2 separate regions of the Homo sapiens genome follow, and region 1 is linked to region 2. Evidence: fine-mapped expression QTL. Tissue or cell type: esophagus mucosa. Region 2 holds a variant in brackets; the other region holds the start of a gene. All regions are shown on one strand. Distances are between the middles of the regions.

Region 1 (8,106 bases), 100 kb after region 2:
AAATCATTTTCCCTTTTGTTGCAGCAATACAAGTCACTCATCTATTTATTCAGCAAAATCCTACTAAGCACCCTCTACTGCACTCTCTTGTGGCACAGTAATTAAAACGCTGCAGCACATTGCGACAAGCCTTGAAGTGATGAGTGCTGCTATTTTCCTGACTGTTTAAATCCCTGCAAATGGTAACAATCGTTCTCACCTGAGAATTCCTGCAGGCTAAATCTGCTCAAGGTCTGATAAATGTTCTTCCTGCCTTCACACCTGAATGATGACCAATGGACAGGTGAGCACCAGGGTGGGCGGAGGGAACCCTGAGTTAGCCGGGAGCTGCTGGAGTGTGTAACTGTTCCAGCAAGCAAGGCTGTTCATTGTATTCAACACTATAGAACTGCTATCACTCCTAATGTTTTTCCCTGTAAGAAAAATGTAAAAGTGTTAAGCCCTGGGCTGATGTCACACAAATTCAATTATTCTTCTCTTTTGATCACATAATCTGTCCCGAGAACAAAGTTTCAAAACAAAGTCTGCGTGTTCCTTCTGGTCCCCACATTAAAAAATAATAATAAAATAAACAAAAATCTGTTTGATCTTCTCTTCCAAAAGGCTACTTGTAATTAGAGACTGAGCGCTTGCAAGTTTGATTTGTATATTTCTTAAGCCAAGTTAATCATCACCTGCACTCCCACCCCCTTGACAGAACAGTTGAAGCCAGCATCTCGGCAGCACCTCCCTTCCCATGTGTGTAACACGTCTGTGGCTGTCGTGTGCTGAGCTGAGGTCACGCAGAAGCTGCGATTGTGTCTGGTGCAAACACACAACAGCATCTCAGCAGCACCTCCCTTCCCATGTGTGTAACACGTCTGTGGCTGTCGTGTGCTGAGCTGAGGGCACGCAGAAGCTGCGATTGTGTCTGGTGCAAACACACAACAGCATCTCAGCAGCACCTCCCTTCCCATCACGTGTGTAACACGTCTGTGGCTGTCGTGTGCTGAGCTGAGGTCACGCAGAAGCTGCGATTGTGTCTGGTGCAAACACACAACAGCATCTCGGCAGCACCTCCCTTCCCATGTGTGTAACACGTCTGTGGCTGTCGTGTGCTGAGCTGAGGTCACGCAGAAGCTGCGATTGTGTCTGGTGCAAACACACAACAGCATCTCGGCAGCACCTCCCTTCCCATGTGTGTAACACGTCTGTGGCTGTCGTGTGCTGAGCTGAGGTCACGCAGAAGCTGCGATTGTGTCTGGTGCAAACACACAACAGCATCTCGGCAGCACCTCCCTTCCCATGTGTGTAACACGTCTGTGGCTGTCGTGTGCTGAGCTGAGGTCACGCAGAAGCTGCGATTGTGTCTGGTGCAAACACACAACAGCATCTCGGCAGCACCTCCCTTCCCATGTGTGTAACACGTCTGTGGCTGTCGTGTGCTGAGCTGAGGTCACGCAGAAGCTGCGATTGTGTCTGGTGCAAACACACAACAGCATCTCGGCAGCACCTCCCTTCCCATGTGTGTAACACGTCTGTGGCTGTCGTGTGCTGAGCTGAGGTCACGCAGAAGCTGCGATTGTGTCTGGTGCAAACACACAACAGCATCTCGGCAGCACCTCCCTTCCCATGTGTGTAACACGTCTGTGGCTGTCGTGTGCTGAGCTGAGGTCACGCAGAAGCTGCGATTGTGTCTGGTGCAAACACACAACAGCATCTCGGCAGCACCTCCCTTCCCATGTGTGTAACACGTCTGTGGCTGTCGTGTGCTGAGCTGAGGTCACGCAGAAGCTGCGATTGTGTCTGGTGCAAACACACAACAGCATCTCGGCAGCACCTCCCTTCCCATGTGTGTAACACGTCTGTGGCTGTCGTGTGCTGAGCTGAGGTCACGCAGAAGCTGCGATTGTGTCTGGTGCAAACACACAACAGCATCTCAGCAGCACCTCCCTTCCCATGTGTGTAACACGTCTGTGGCTGTCGTGTGCTGAGCTGCAAACACACAACAGCATCTCGGCAGCACCTCCCTTCCCATGTGTGTAACACGTCTGTGGCTGTCGTGTGCTGAGCTGAGGTCACGCAGAAGCTGCGATTGTGTGTGGTGCAAACACACAACAGCATCTCGGCAGCACCTCCCTTCCCATGTGTGTAACACGTCTGTGGCTGTCGTGTGCTGAGCTGAGGTCACGCAGAAGCTGCGATTGTGTCTGGTGCAAACACACAACAGCATCTCGGCAGCACCTCCCTTCCCATGTGTGTAACACGTCTGTGGCTGTCGTGTGCTGAGCTGAGGTCACGCAGAAGCTGCGATTGTGTCTGGTGCAAACACACAACAGCATCTCGGCAGCACCTCCCTTCCCATGTGTGTAACACGTCTGTGGCTGTCGTGTGCTGAGCTGAGGTCACGCAGAAGCTGCGATTGTGTCTGGTGCAAACACACAACAGCATCTCGGCAGCACCTCCCTTCCCATCACATGTGTGTAACACGTCTGTGGCTGTCGTGTGCTGAGCTGAGGTCACGCAGAAGCTGCGATTGTGTCTGGTGCAAACACACAACATCTCAGCAGCACCTCCCTTCCCATCACATATGTGTAACACGTCTGTGGCTGTCGTGTGCTGAGCTGAGGTCACACAGAGGCTGCGATTGTGTCTGGTGCAAACACACAAACGACCTAAACAGACGGCCAGGATTTGGTCACTGGGTGAGTAAACAAAGTCTGTACACCAGCTACTTTCCTCTCAGGAGGCATCAGGGGCAGAGTTGGGGGCCCAGGTTAATCCCACACAGTCTACCACCTCCGTCTTCCACAAGGTCAGGAGATAACGGGGAACCTGGGAGGCGTCCCAGACACTGGACTTCCTGATTCTTTAATCCAGAAGGGTTTGCTATGTTAACAACCTGGCTGAGCGAGCGAGGCAGACGGTCATGCCGCAGCTTCACCTGGGCAACATTTAAAGGCAGTAACTTTTAACAGGACAGACTTAAATTTCTAATGTAAAAGAAATTTCACTTAGTGTAACAGAGGTAACACAAGTAAACATATCTTTCTCCAGCCTTTTTAGTTTGTCTTTAAGAAAATACAGCAACTACGAAAACGCTTGTGAGTTGTTTCCAGTAAGTTTAACAAAATCATACAATAACATAATAAGCAGAGGGGTAATGAGTGGAGTTCCTTTCATTGTGTGAAAGGAGGGGTTCAGAGCGCCCAGGGAGTGCTGAAGAGGGCCCGTGGCAGGGAAATCAGAGTCTCTCTCCTCTGGATCAGAGGACACGCCTCTCCTTACAGGTCAGGTCACATTTTAAAGTTGAAGAGGCCTTTGTCAGTTACATGCTTTCCCCCAATACTTTATTACAGTGACGCGACCTTAAGAAAAGTCAGCACATTCCTGAGGACAAGTCGGGGTGCGCTTTACCACGCGGACACTGTTGCCCCTAACCCAAGACAGCAGGGGGGACCTGGTCCCCGGGGGGGGAGTGATGCCAGGATCCCGAGCCGACCTCCGCCAGGGGAACGCCGGTCAGTGCCTGCAGGTCAGATCAGTGCTGTAACCCTGTAACGAACAGGGTGTCTCTCCCAAATCTGCCAGCTTCGGGATGCTGGCGTGGGTAGGCGCACATCCACGCACGGCGGAGCGCGGGCTGCAGCCCCGGGCAGTTTTCAGGGTCCTCACCTGTGCGCTTCACCTCTAGGCACCTGCGCGCGGGGCCTCCATGTCCCCCTCCTTGGAGACCGAACTGCATTCCATTCAAATCCCAAAGGACGTCCCCTCCATCCATCAGACACCCCCGTCCCACTAACACACAGTCGCTGCCGAAGGAGCAGCGCCTGTGGCCCGCACACCTCGCAGCCCCGAGTCCCGGCGCCCGGTCCTTACCAGCTGCTCCTGCAGCGCGGCCAGCGCCGCCTCCAGCTGCTGCTCGGGGCCGTGGAGGCCGTGGGGGCCGCAGGGCGCGGCGGGCGCGGGCGGGGGCTGCAGGGCCAGGGCGCCCCGTACCCGCTCCTGCTGCGTGGCTCGCAGCCCCTGCAGCTCCTGCAGCCCCGCGAACGCCGCGCGCAACCTCGCGCCCAACCTACGGCGGTCCCAGCCCGCGGACCCCGGGGGTCCGCCCGGCGTCCACATCTCCCGGGCAGGGTCCCGGCCTCCCGAACCCCACGAGCGGCGCCGGAGGCCCAGCGCGCGCGGATCCCGAGCTGTGTCGCGGGTCCTCCTGCGCCTCCTCTCTCCGCCCCCGGCTCCGCAGGTCGCCAAGGTGGGCTGGAATCTGTGGCCAGGCGCGGAGGGCGGGGTCTGCACGCGCCCCGAGGTCACCGCGGCCTCCCCCGGACCCGCCCCGCCGACCCCCCAGGGCCCCTCGCCGGCTGCGGGCAGGGCGGGCGCACCCAGACCCCGGGGCCAGCTGAGCGCCTCCGTGACTTCAGCGGGGAGGGCCAGCCGGGAGGAGGAGCCCGGGGGAGAGGGGCAAAGAGGCGCAAGTGGAACAAAGGCGGAGAAAGGCTTGTTAATGTTTTAAAATGTTTATAAAGATAAACTATTGGGACATTATCACATTGCAAGGACCGTGTTACCATTACAGACGCAGTAGAGATTTCAAAACCGTGTTACCCACGTTTCCCAATGGGTATCTGCAGTTTGGAAACCGCACCTCGCTTTTTTTTTTTTTTTTTTTTTTTTTTTTTTTTTTTTGAGACAGTGTCTCGCTCTGTCGCCCAGGCTGGAGTGCAGTGGCGCGATCTCCTCTCACTGCAACCTCTGCCTCCCGGGTTCAAGCGATTCTCCTGCCTCAGCCTCCCGAGTAGCTGGGACTACAGGCGCCTACCACCATACCTGGCTAATTTTTGTATTTTTAGTACAGATGGGGTTTCACCATGTTGGCCAGGCTGCTCAGCTTGCTTTTTAAATTTTTAAAATAATTGCTTAAGATGCAGTTCACATACCATAAAACTCACCTAATTTAAGGTGTACAGTTCGTTTTTAGTATATTAACGAAGTTGTGTTCACCACCCCCAAAAGAAACCCTGTTCTCATCGGTAGCTACCCCCATTCCCTCTCCTGCACCCCCACACATAGAACCACCACCCCGCAGGTTCTGGAAGTTCATGGAAATGGGGTCACACGCCAGGAGGTCTCTGTGGGGGCTCCTTTTGGTGAGCGTTTTCAAGGTGCGTCTGTGCTGCAGATTGCGTCAGAACTGTATTCCTTTGTGTGGCTGAATAATACTCCACTGCATGGCTGTGCCAAGTTTTGTTTATCCATTCATCTGCTGATGACATGTGAGTTGTTCCATTTTTTAGCTATTACGAATAACGCTGCAAGGACATTCCTGTATGAGTTTTTGTGTGGCAATATGTTTTCATTATACCTAAGAGAGGAATGGCTGGATCGTAGGTGACTACCGTGCTTAATCTTGTGAGGAGCTGCCAGGCTGCTTTCCAAGTGGAATCACAGCAGCCAGCGGGGTATGAGGGTTCCATTTCCTCAGTGTGCACACCAACCGCTGTCTTTAGTCCAGCAGATGTGAAGTGGTATCTCCCTGTGGTTTTGATTTGTGTTTCCCCGATGGCTAAGGACGTTGAGCATCTTTCCATGTGCTTGTTGTATACTTCCTTTGGAGAACTGTCTATTCAGATCCTTGGCCCATTTTAAAATTTAGGTTGTCTTTTCGTTATTGAGATGTGAGTATTCATTATACAATTCCCTTATCAGACATGATTTGCACTTCCCTTATGAAATACATGATTGACAAATAATTTTTCCATGTTGTGAGTTTTTTTCATGTTCTTGATAGTGTCCTTTGCAGCAAAAAATGTTTGTAATTTTGGTGAATTCCAGTGTATCTACTTTGTTGTTGTTCCTTATGCTTTGGGTGATCTAACAGAGCATTGTCTAATCCAAAGACAAAGTTTACAGCTATGATTTCTAAGATTTTGCTGTAGACTTAGCACTTACATTTAAGCCTTTGTTCTATTTTGCATTAATTTCTGTATATGGTGTGAGGTAGGGGCCCCTTCTTTTACATACCCAGTTGTCCTAGTACCATTTGTTGAAAAAACAATTCTTTCCCTGTTGAATTGTCTTGGGACCCTTGTTGAAAATCAGTTGATCCAGAAATCAGTTTCTGGTTTCTCAGTTCTGTTGCGTTGCAATATATGTCTATTCTTATGCCAGTACCACACTGTTTCAATCATTGTAGCCTTGTAATAAGTTTTGAAGTCAGGAAATGTGAGTCCTCCAATTTTTTCTTTTCCAAGATTGTTTTGGCTGATCTGTGTCTTTTGATTCTTTTTTCTTCTTCTTCTTCTTCTTCTTCTTCTTCTTCTTCTTCCTCTTCCTCTTCCTCTTCCTCTTCCTCTCCTTCTCCTTCTCCTTCTCCTTCTCCTTCTCCTTCTCCTTCTCCTTCTCCTTCTCCTTCTCCTTCTTCTTCTTCTTCTTCTTCTTCTTCCTCCTCCTTTTTGAGACAGGGCCTTACTCTGTTGCCCAGGCTGGAGTGCAGTGGTGCGATCTTGGCTCACTGCAACCTCCATCTCCTGGGCTCAAGCAATTCTCCTGCCTCAGCCTCCCAAGTAGCTGTGATTACAGGTACATGCCACCACGCCTGGCTAATTTTTGTATTTTTAGTAGAGATGGGGCTTGGCCATGTTGGCCAGGCTGGTCTCTAACTCCTGACCTCAGGTGATCCGCCTGCCTGGCCTCCCAAATTACAGGTGTGAGCTGCTACTCCTGGCCCGTGTCTTTTGATTTCTATATGAATTTTAGTATCAGCTTGTCAATTTCAGCAAAGAAGTCATCTGGGATTTGGATGGGAATTGCAACTAAATTTGTTTACCTATTGCAGGTATTGCTACCTTAAGATTAAATCTTCTGAACCATAAACATAGGATGTCTTTCCACTTATTTAGGTCTTCATTAATTTCTTTCGACAGTGCTTTGTAGTTTTCAGCATAGAAGTCTTGTACTTGCTTAATTTATTTCTAAGTATTTTATTATTTTTGACACAATTGTACATGGAATTGTTTTCTAGTTTTATTTTCAGAACATTCATTGTTAGTGTATAAAAATTAAATATTGATTGGAAGGCCAGGCATAGTGGCACACACCTGTAATCCCAGCACTTTGGGAGGCAGAGGCACGTGGATCATTTGAGCTGAGGCATTCCAGAGCAGCCTGGGTAACATGGCAAAACCCTGCCTCTACCAAAAATACAAAAATAGCCAGGGTATGGTGGCATGCACCTGTAGTTTCAGCTACTCAGGAGGGAGGCTGAGGCTAGAGGATCCATTGAACCCAGGAGGTCATGGTTACAGTGAGCTGTGTTTGCACCACTGAACTCCAGCCAGACAACAGAGTGAGACCCTGTCTCAAAAAGAAAAAAAAAGATTCTTGTATATTGATTCCTACAACTCTGCTGAACTTGTTTATTAGTTCTAATAGTTGTGTGTGTGTGTGGGTGTGTGTGTGTGCATGTGAATTTATTTGTACTTTCTACCTAGAAGCTCATGTCATCTGGAAATAGAGACAGTTTTACTGCTTTCTTTCCAGGATGGGTACCTTTTACTTCTTTTACCTGCCAAGTTGTTCTGGCTACAACATCTAACACCATGTTGAACAGAAAGGGCCAAAGAAAACATTCAGTCTTTCCTGTTAAGTATGACGTCAGCTGTGGGTTTGTCTTAGATGCCTTTTAAAGATAGAGAGAGATGAAGATAGTGACAGAGAGAGAGACAGACTGGAGGTGAGCCCTTTATCAGTTATGTCTTCTCCCTGTATGTGAGCTCTCTGAATCGTGTCCTTTGGTAAACAGAAGGTCTTAATTTTTACATAGTCTTATTTATTATTAATCTTTTTGTGCCCTTTTGAAGAAATGTTTACTCACCCAGGTTATTGAAGACATTACCTAATGCTGTCTTCTAGAAACCTTATCATTTTGCCTTTCTTATCTAGATCTATAATCCACCCAGAATGGCTTTTCATGTGCTGTATTTGGAGGAGGTGTCACAATTTACTTGTTTTTAAGCACATATTCCAGTGCAATATTTATTGAAAAATCTTGTCCTTTTTGAACTCTTGCATGTTGCCGCCACCTTTGTCCTGAGTAAAATATCTGTGTGTTTTCCGGAATGTTCT
Region 2 (8,106 bases):
GGCAAGGATATTCGTTACTGCCTCGTTGTACTGTGTAAGCGTTTTGTTGGTGCCTATCCCATCGAGAATACAGAACAACAGACAGAGGACACTGGTGCTCACTGGCTAGCCAGGGGGGCAGCGGGGCAGCAGGCAGGGCCGGAAGGCGTGAGAGGGGCAGAGGCGCTGCAGGATCCCCAGTCTGGAGACGTAGTTTGGAACGTCTGGAGATCCCCAGTTTGGAACGTAGCACAGCGTGCGTGGGGGGCAGGGGGCAGGGAGCAGGAGGGTCCACACTTGCGTGGGGCAGGGGCGGGGTCTACACTTGTGTGGGGCGGGGGCGGGGTCTACGCTTGCGTGGGGCAGGGGCGGCGTCTACACTTGTGTGGTGTCTACACTTGCGTGGGGCAGGGGCGGGGTCTACACTTGTGTGGGGTGGGGGCGGGGTCTACACTTGCGTGGGCATCTGGAGGGTCAGGGAGGCTTCTCCGGACTTCATCCTGAAGGTGTAAATGCCACCCTCCTGCTGGGGTTCTGGAGGTTTCCTTGTGGTTCTGGGGTGGCCGGGGACCTGATGTGGGTCCTCATGCCCAGGGGGACCGAGGATCAGCCTGGGGCTGGGTGAGGGCCCGGATCTTGGAGGCTGCAGCTTAAACAGAGAAAAATGAGCGGATTTGAGAAATTTTCAGTTTCAGAGATGAAATTGACAGGCCAATGTGGTGAGTTGGAGCAGGAGGCTGAGATAGGGTGGAGCTTCCGAAAAAAGAAACAACATTTAGCTGAGATACAGCAGTACGCACAATGCCGAGCGCCTACTGAGTGTTCATGTTCCGGCAATTTCACCAGTCATTTTGTCTCTCAACCTCCATGGCGAGGGGGTTCTCTCTGCAGTCAGCCCCTCCCCAGACAGAGCCACCGCCTGGATCCGGGGATCTGAGGATGAAATCTCTGAGAGCCCCTCGTGGGCCCTGGAGGACAGATGAATCCGTGATGGGCAGCACGGATCCGGGGATCTGAGGATGAAAGCTCTGAGAGCCCCTCGTGGGCCCTGGAGGACAGGTGAATCCGTGATGGGCAGCACGGATCCGGGGATCTGAGGATGAAAGCTCTGAGAGCCCCTCGTGGACCCTGGAGGACAGGTGAATCCGGATGGGCAGCACCCCCTCAGGCCCATTGTGAGTGGGATCGCGTTGGCTTCCCCCATGGGAGATGCCACTGCAAAGTCCAAATGCCTGAAGAGCCCCGACGGAGCCACGCCAGCCGGTTCTTTCTCCCCGAGGCACCTGCTGAGCTGCCTCGTTGACTTCCCACCCCAGTGGTTTGGAAAATGGGATGCCCATCATTTGAGCTGTGACTTCTGCCCCCTCTCACAGCCGCGTTGTGTCTTCACTTCACATTAATGTTAAAAAAAAAAATAGGGGCTGGGCACGGTGGCTCATGCCTGTAATCCTAGCACTTTGGGAGGCCGAGGCGGGCGGATCACGAGGTCAGGAGATTGAGACTATCCTGGCTAACACGGTGAAACCCCATCTCTACTAAAAATACACAAAAAATTAGCCAGCCGTGGTGGCGGGCGCCTGCAGTCCCAGCTACTCTGGAGGCTGTGGCAGGAGAATGGCTTGAACCCTGGAGGCGGAGCTTGCAGTGAGCCGAGATCGAGCCACTGCACTCCAGCCTGGGCGACAGAGCGAGACTCCGTCTCACAAAAAAAAGAACAAAACAAAAAGGAAAGGCACGCGGCAAAGTCTCCAAGTACAACCTGTGACGTATTTTGCACTACTTACTCCATTCGATAGAAGCTGGAGAAAAAGGATGAGTGCCCCTGCCTGGAACCAGCCATGGCATTTACATCATGATGTCAGTTTGACTCAACGTCCGTCACTGCACTTACATCACTTCATAAGCAATTTCCCAACATTTCTGACGCTGTAGTCACAAAAAAGAAATAAGGAGTCATGCAGGTCAGGTTTTGAAAATAGATCTAAAACCCAAGGCTATACTTTCTAATAGCCAGTCATGCATAAGATTTAAAATTCTCCTCTTTCTAACACTTTTCCATGTAGATGTTCTTGTCCAGCCTCATCTCAGCAAGCTCAAATGAGAGTGAAAGGGGTATTGGTCTGATGTGGTCAGCAGATGTGGCCTTATGCCTCCATGGGTCACTCGCAGGTTTGATTGATGCTCGTTGACTTACGGACGTTTCTGCCTGAGCGCTGTCTCAGGCCTCCTGGGGCTCGCTCTCCACCAGCGATTCCTCCCTCAGTTTCCACGTTTGCTTCTGTGACCGGCCTTTCCTTGGGTGCGTAGAAATAGTCACATCTCATATGTGGTTAGAAAATTATCCCTCAGCACTGGGTCCCCTTCTTTCTCTAATTCTTGCCTTCCCTTCACAGCGAGTCTACTCAGGACAGCGCCGTGGCAGACACGCACGTGGCCAGGCCCCAGGGGAGCTGTTCACACTCTTGTCCACGTTTGCAATGTGCACGGGTGCAGCTCTGTGCAGCCACTCTGCCGGGCGACCCTTTCCCGGCACCTGCCCTGGAAGCCGCTGGGCCCTGTGTCTCTGCACTGCCTCCCATTGACACTGCTCTCACCGAGGTCCCTGGGGGTGCCTTTCACCCTTCCCCAGCCGCTTAACCACATCCGTACTCAGCATCTCTGCAGCACTCAATACTACTGACCATGGAAATCCCGGCTTCCTAGGCTTCGTGACCTTGGTGGAACTGGGTTTTCTCCTCCTGTCTGTGGGGCCTCTGTCCCTTCAATGCAGGTGTTCCTTGGGCTCTGTTCCTGCACCTGACCCCTCCCTCTCCCTGCACCTGACCCCTCCCTCTCCCTCTCATTTCCATGGCTCCAGTTATCACTTGTGCACCAAAAACTCCCAAGCACAAGTTCGACCAAATGACCTTCCCTGGAGAGCACCTGCCCTGCACGAGCCGCCTGGCGACCCTTTCTCCACCCCTGCCAGAGGGACCTCGCCAAACTCAGAGGTGAGCAGTCCTCCACCTTGCCAAACATCCTCTGGGCGTGGCAGGGAAGGTCGGATGCATGGGCAGGCGAGGGCCTTGCTGATCTGACCCCATCTACCCGTTCCCCTCCCCAGCCCAGTCACTCACCATTCCTGCCCCTCCAGGGAAGCCCTGGGCTCCATTTCACAGAACACATGAGCGTCCTAAGAAGATTCCGAGTTCTTTCATGTTCTCCTTCTGTGTACATGCTACTGTGGACAACCGCAGTGTCATTCATGACGCAGCTCCCGCTCCCTCTCTCTCCTCTGGAAGCTTCCATGACACCCTGTGTGGGGTGAGACCCCCACCAACCACCTGCCACTGTCGCACCCCACCTGCCCGTATCGGAGAAGGTACAGCCCCACCCCATCACGAACAGGAAGCCCACTGGACAGAGCTACATCTGACACCGTAGGGCCCTCCCTTTCGGTATCTTCCAAACGGCTCATTGTCGATTAAATAGGAAATCATTAAGAGAAATACCGACAGAAACTAAATATTTCCATGGCCACTTAGACACAATACTAACTAAATATTTCCATGGCCACTTAGACACAATATTTTTTGGGGGACTCAGGCTTTTTCTCCGGCAGGAACTCACTGGGGTTTGTGTCTTTCTTGCATGAACAAATGCCGAATGACTCCGACAATTTTCTGCTCATTTCCGCAGAGTAGGGTGAGGACTTCACAACCCTGCAGAGACAAACACGCTTTGGGACTTTTATGATTTCTCCATCTGCTCCTAAGTCAACAGCAATTTTTGTAAAGCAGACAGAGTTTCTATCTTTCCAAAGCATTCACCTTAGTTTTTGAGAGAAACAAAGCTCTCTCCTTTCATGCTCTGCATCTTAGATATCATATTAGCATATTGTATTAATCACCTCCAGTCTTTTCTCTTTGATCACATTTTTTCACTAATAACACATGTGACTTCAAGCACAGTTTAAATGAACTACCTAATTTGTAACAGAGTAAATGGGAATTCTTCAGGAATTCCTGACCCCAGGTGGTCACTGAGGGACCTCGCTTCTTTCGGAGCAGCATGGGAACCTCTTGTCGGCTCAGGGCTGTCTGCGTCCAGACCCCAAACACCTCGCCCTGCTGTCTTTCCTCACAGCAGCCCCATCATTTGCAACTCTCTGCTTTCATTTGCCTATCATCTTTCTTTCCTTCCAGAACATGAGAATC[G/A]TGAGGACAGGGACTTTTGTCTGTTTACATTATCACTGTGTATAACTACACTAAAGAGCAATATTTCAGGTGCCTGATACATAAATATTTGTTGAATAAATAAATTTTCCTTTTTACTCATCTCACCATCAGATGGAGTTTGCATTCATTAAAAATTAGGTTTGGCTCTCGTTACAGATATTCAAAATGTCAGGAGTTTAAACAGGGCAGAAGTTTATTTCTGTCTCTCTTGAAGGTCAGGTGCAGAGACTTCGGGGCTGGTCACAGAGCCCAGACTGCTCTGGGAATTTGTGGGCCAGGACGCAGCCTCGGGCAGGGCTCCCGGAGCCGTGCCCCCATTTCTTTCCCATCCTTTGTCCGGAAATTACACACATGGCCGCACTTACTGCGATGGGCGGGAGAATGTGGTTTTCATTCCAAGAGGCCGCTGTTTTTCCTGTAGACAGTGGGTAGAACAATTAGCAGCAAGAAGCACCCTGCTGCAAGCTTGCCTGTGTGATGAGGTGGAGAGGCACTGAATGCCCCTTCCTCGTCACTGTGCTCACTTTGGTGGAGGCTTATCATGATCGACTAGGACAATTTTCTAGCATGTCTGCACCGAATCTCTTCCCGATAGAATTGAAGGTGAACTCAGGGCAGCATGGAGTGCCCACCTGGCCTCCTCCCAGTGTGTCTGCGTCTCCGCTTAGTCTCCGAAGTGAGTTGTTTGGTTGCATGTGGATCGGCCTTTGGATGGGAAGGGTCAGGAACCCTCACTGGATGACCCTCGCTTTCCAGAGGCGGCACAGGACAGAAATCACACCTGCCCTGTCGAGGGTGGACAGAGTTCATGTGGAGCCTGGGATTTGGGTGGGTGATGGGGGCGGGGGACTTTTCATAGGTTCAGCAGAAGAGGAGGGTGAGGGAGGGCACAGGGCGAGCCAGGCCGCGCGTCACGGGCAGGACACGGCCGCTTCCCTTCCAGGTCTCCTGCTGGTGGGAACAGGAGCGCATGTGCCCGGGAAGCTCGGTGGATAAAGGCTGTCGCTCGCGCTTGTTTGGGAAACTGGGGGGAAGTCCTGATGAAAAAGGGGTGCCTGGGAGTGGGCTGGAAGAGCTTTAAAATGCCAGGCTGCTGGGGTAACTGTGGGGTGTGGGATGCCCGGGCTCCCCAGACCCCTTCGTCAGCAGCTTCGCGTGGCCTCCTTCATTCATACATCCCCAAGCCACAATGGAGCAAGGCAGAGAACTGCTGTGGCCCCGAGGTAGGGGGAAGAGGGTCCGGAGTGGCTCCAGGCACCTACAAATGTCTCCTAGGGATGGGGTCTTTGAGGACCTCAGGCTGCCTTTCCCATCACCTGTTTTAGTGACCTTCGTATCTTCTCTTTTTAATTTTTATTCTTCTGAAATCAGCCTATTTAGGAAGTACAGTATAATACCTATAAATATTCTCAGCCTCGGAAAGATTTACTTTTATAAAATACACAACTAAATAAGTCGTGCAAAACATCTGATGTAAGATATTTATAATACAGGCCTCTCCCTGAGCTAGTGGTGCCTGGAGCCAGGGTTCCCAAGAGTCCCGGGACCCAAGTGCACATCACAACCTGCAGAAGAATCAACACCTCATTCAGACACTTAACCCTGTGATGTCAATATCTGTAGATACACATGAGATTGGCAAAGTAGAGATGTGTTTTCAGAGTCCTCTTGATTTCACAGTGGCTTTTTGTCATTTTTTTTGGTTGTTCATTTCAATTAGTGGACAGTAAGAACACCTGTGCTACCCGTGAGCAGCCAGCACAATGTATTCTGACATCAAACAGCTCCTTAGAAAGTCTGGGAACCCTGCCATGAGACGTCATGCAAATCCAGTTGAGAGTCCTTTGTCTCTTATGATTCTAAACAAAAGTACCACCTTCTTCAGGGAAAGTGGAATTGACCCACCCTGTGACCGGCAAGTGCCCGCTGGAGGGCACCTTCCCTGGGGGGTAGTTTAGTTTTCCTTTCAATGCCGTGAACAGTTTCACTTCCGATTAAGCACCAAAGCAAAAGATATACAGAAATAGTTCATTTGGAAGAGGATGGAGTCAAATCAGCTGTTTTTCTTTTTATTATACTTACTATAATTTAAAAAAATCCTAAATGAAGGCGACATGGAGAGATTTCCTCCTGTTAGGGACGGGCCTGACATCGCGCATCTCAGGTCTTCTGTGCAGGCAGAATCCACGGCGAAGACGTGCCTTGTTCATCACCTGTGCAGAGAACGAAGAAAGCAACCTTCATGCTTCCCTTTCTCACTAGAAAAACAAAAGCATGAGTCTGGAATCTATGCAACGTGATATTGTTTTAGAAACTGCGGAAATTTCTGTTTCTATTCTGGGGTGTTTTCCAAGCACCACGATGGTAGCACAACGCTCACCTGCCCCAGCTTGATTCGTCAGATTTCACCAGCTCACTGCACAGGATGCATAGGTGGTGCACAACAGCGTGTGCAGCTTACTGCTTATAAATCAACTAGCTTGCTCATAAGACACCGTTACTGCAGACTTTTTAATCTCTCTTACCCTACCCCTGGGAAAAGGACTGGTAAGTGTAACGTTCATGAAGTATCTTGCATAGGCAAGGATTTACTCAAATGCCAAACTCAACTTAAACCTGAGTTTTTCAATGCTAAGCATTGGGAGGCCTGAACCAGCTCCTATCTGAGGCAGCATTAACATGCTTGCCCTTCATACTAAGAGAAATATTCACTTTCTCTAGGGATGAGGAGTGGTTAGCAGAAGGAAATCAAACTTTTCTGGAAATGATTTCAGCATATTCATCTTGTAAGAATGTCTTCTGATATAATGCTTAAAAAAACAAGTGAATGTGAGAGTTGCTTTACACAATTCCCCCTGGGTTTTAGGAATTTCACCAAATACAGTCTGGGGACCTGGAGTCTTTCTGCCTGGTCAGTCCTGGAGGTGGAATCTGGAAACAGCCTTGGATCGCAGCCTTCCACTGCTGGGCTCGGCCCTCCATTGGGTCCCCCCTTCACCCCACGCCCTTTCCCAGAGGCCTCCTGCTTCTGGAACCGGAAATGTTCATTTTGGTGGGGCCGTGATTGGTGGGCTCAGAGCCAGAATTTCCCATCTCAACTGCCCTTTGAAAGACAACGGCAAGAGGGACCCAGGTGACATGGAACAGAGCTGTGTGCCTGCCAGGGAGAAAGTCTATGTACAAGGAATGCTGTGAGCCATCTCCGCTTCCAGTGGGCAAGACCAGAAGTCACCTGAACTGTGAACCTGGTGGGTCCTCTGGCCTCTGCCTCTCAGCCACTCTTTTGTGAAGAGTAAATGAAACAGCTTCTGCACAGAGCCCAGCGCTATGCTGGGTGCATCATACACATTTCAGAAAATGTACCCTGACCACAGCATGAGCCATGGTGCCCACAGAAAACACAGAGTGTGCCCGGTGGGACCTTCAGAAATGGGCGGAGTCCCCTTTGCCTCTCCCCAGTCTCTGCATCCGTTCCCATTGGGCGTGTTATCGGATGAACGCAGAGGGCTGAAGCGCTCTGGCTTTTCATTGTGGGTTTTTGAGCCAATGTAAAGACATTTGTTCCCATGGACCCTGGATTTTCAGAGACACCCAGATATCAGGAGCGGCACAGCTGGCGTTCTGTGGAAAGTCATACCAATTATTTATGATCTAATGCTTTTAGATTAGAAAAATCAACAATATCACATCTGGGGAAATAGTTGTTATGGTCCACTGTGTGATAAAAAATACAAATGATCCAAGATCCTAAGAAATATAATATTCAATAAACAGGATGTCTGCATTCTAGTGTTTTCTTTCAATTTATGTTAAGGCCTTTGTGGAATCAATGTGACTTGGTGTAGAGATGGGTTGCCCCCACTGTCAATCACTTTCAAGAGCTTTGCTACCTCCTCCTCCCAGCCTCTCC

What was found. PIP is the estimated chance that this variant, and not a neighbour inherited with it, causes the effect.
Region 1: it holds the start of DACT2, and the variant in region 2 is fine-mapped to the expression of DACT2 in esophagus mucosa (GTEx, PIP above 0.99).

Annotation. Positions count from the first base shown.
Region 1 is chr6:168,315,530-168,323,635 of GRCh38, forward strand. It overlaps DACT2 (dishevelled binding antagonist of beta catenin 2), which reads right to left and starts at 4,248. Exons shown (of 4, transcript NM_214462.5): 1 at 3,859-4,248. The coding sequence starts at 4,104. RefSeq lists a silencer at 6,997-7,165.
Region 2 is chr6:168,212,314-168,220,419 of GRCh38, forward strand. No RefSeq gene overlaps it. Among named protein-coding and RNA genes, the nearest start is that of DACT2, 100 kb to the right of the region's middle. RefSeq lists an enhancer at 2,631-3,131. The variant G/A (reference allele first, on the strand shown) is at 4,176.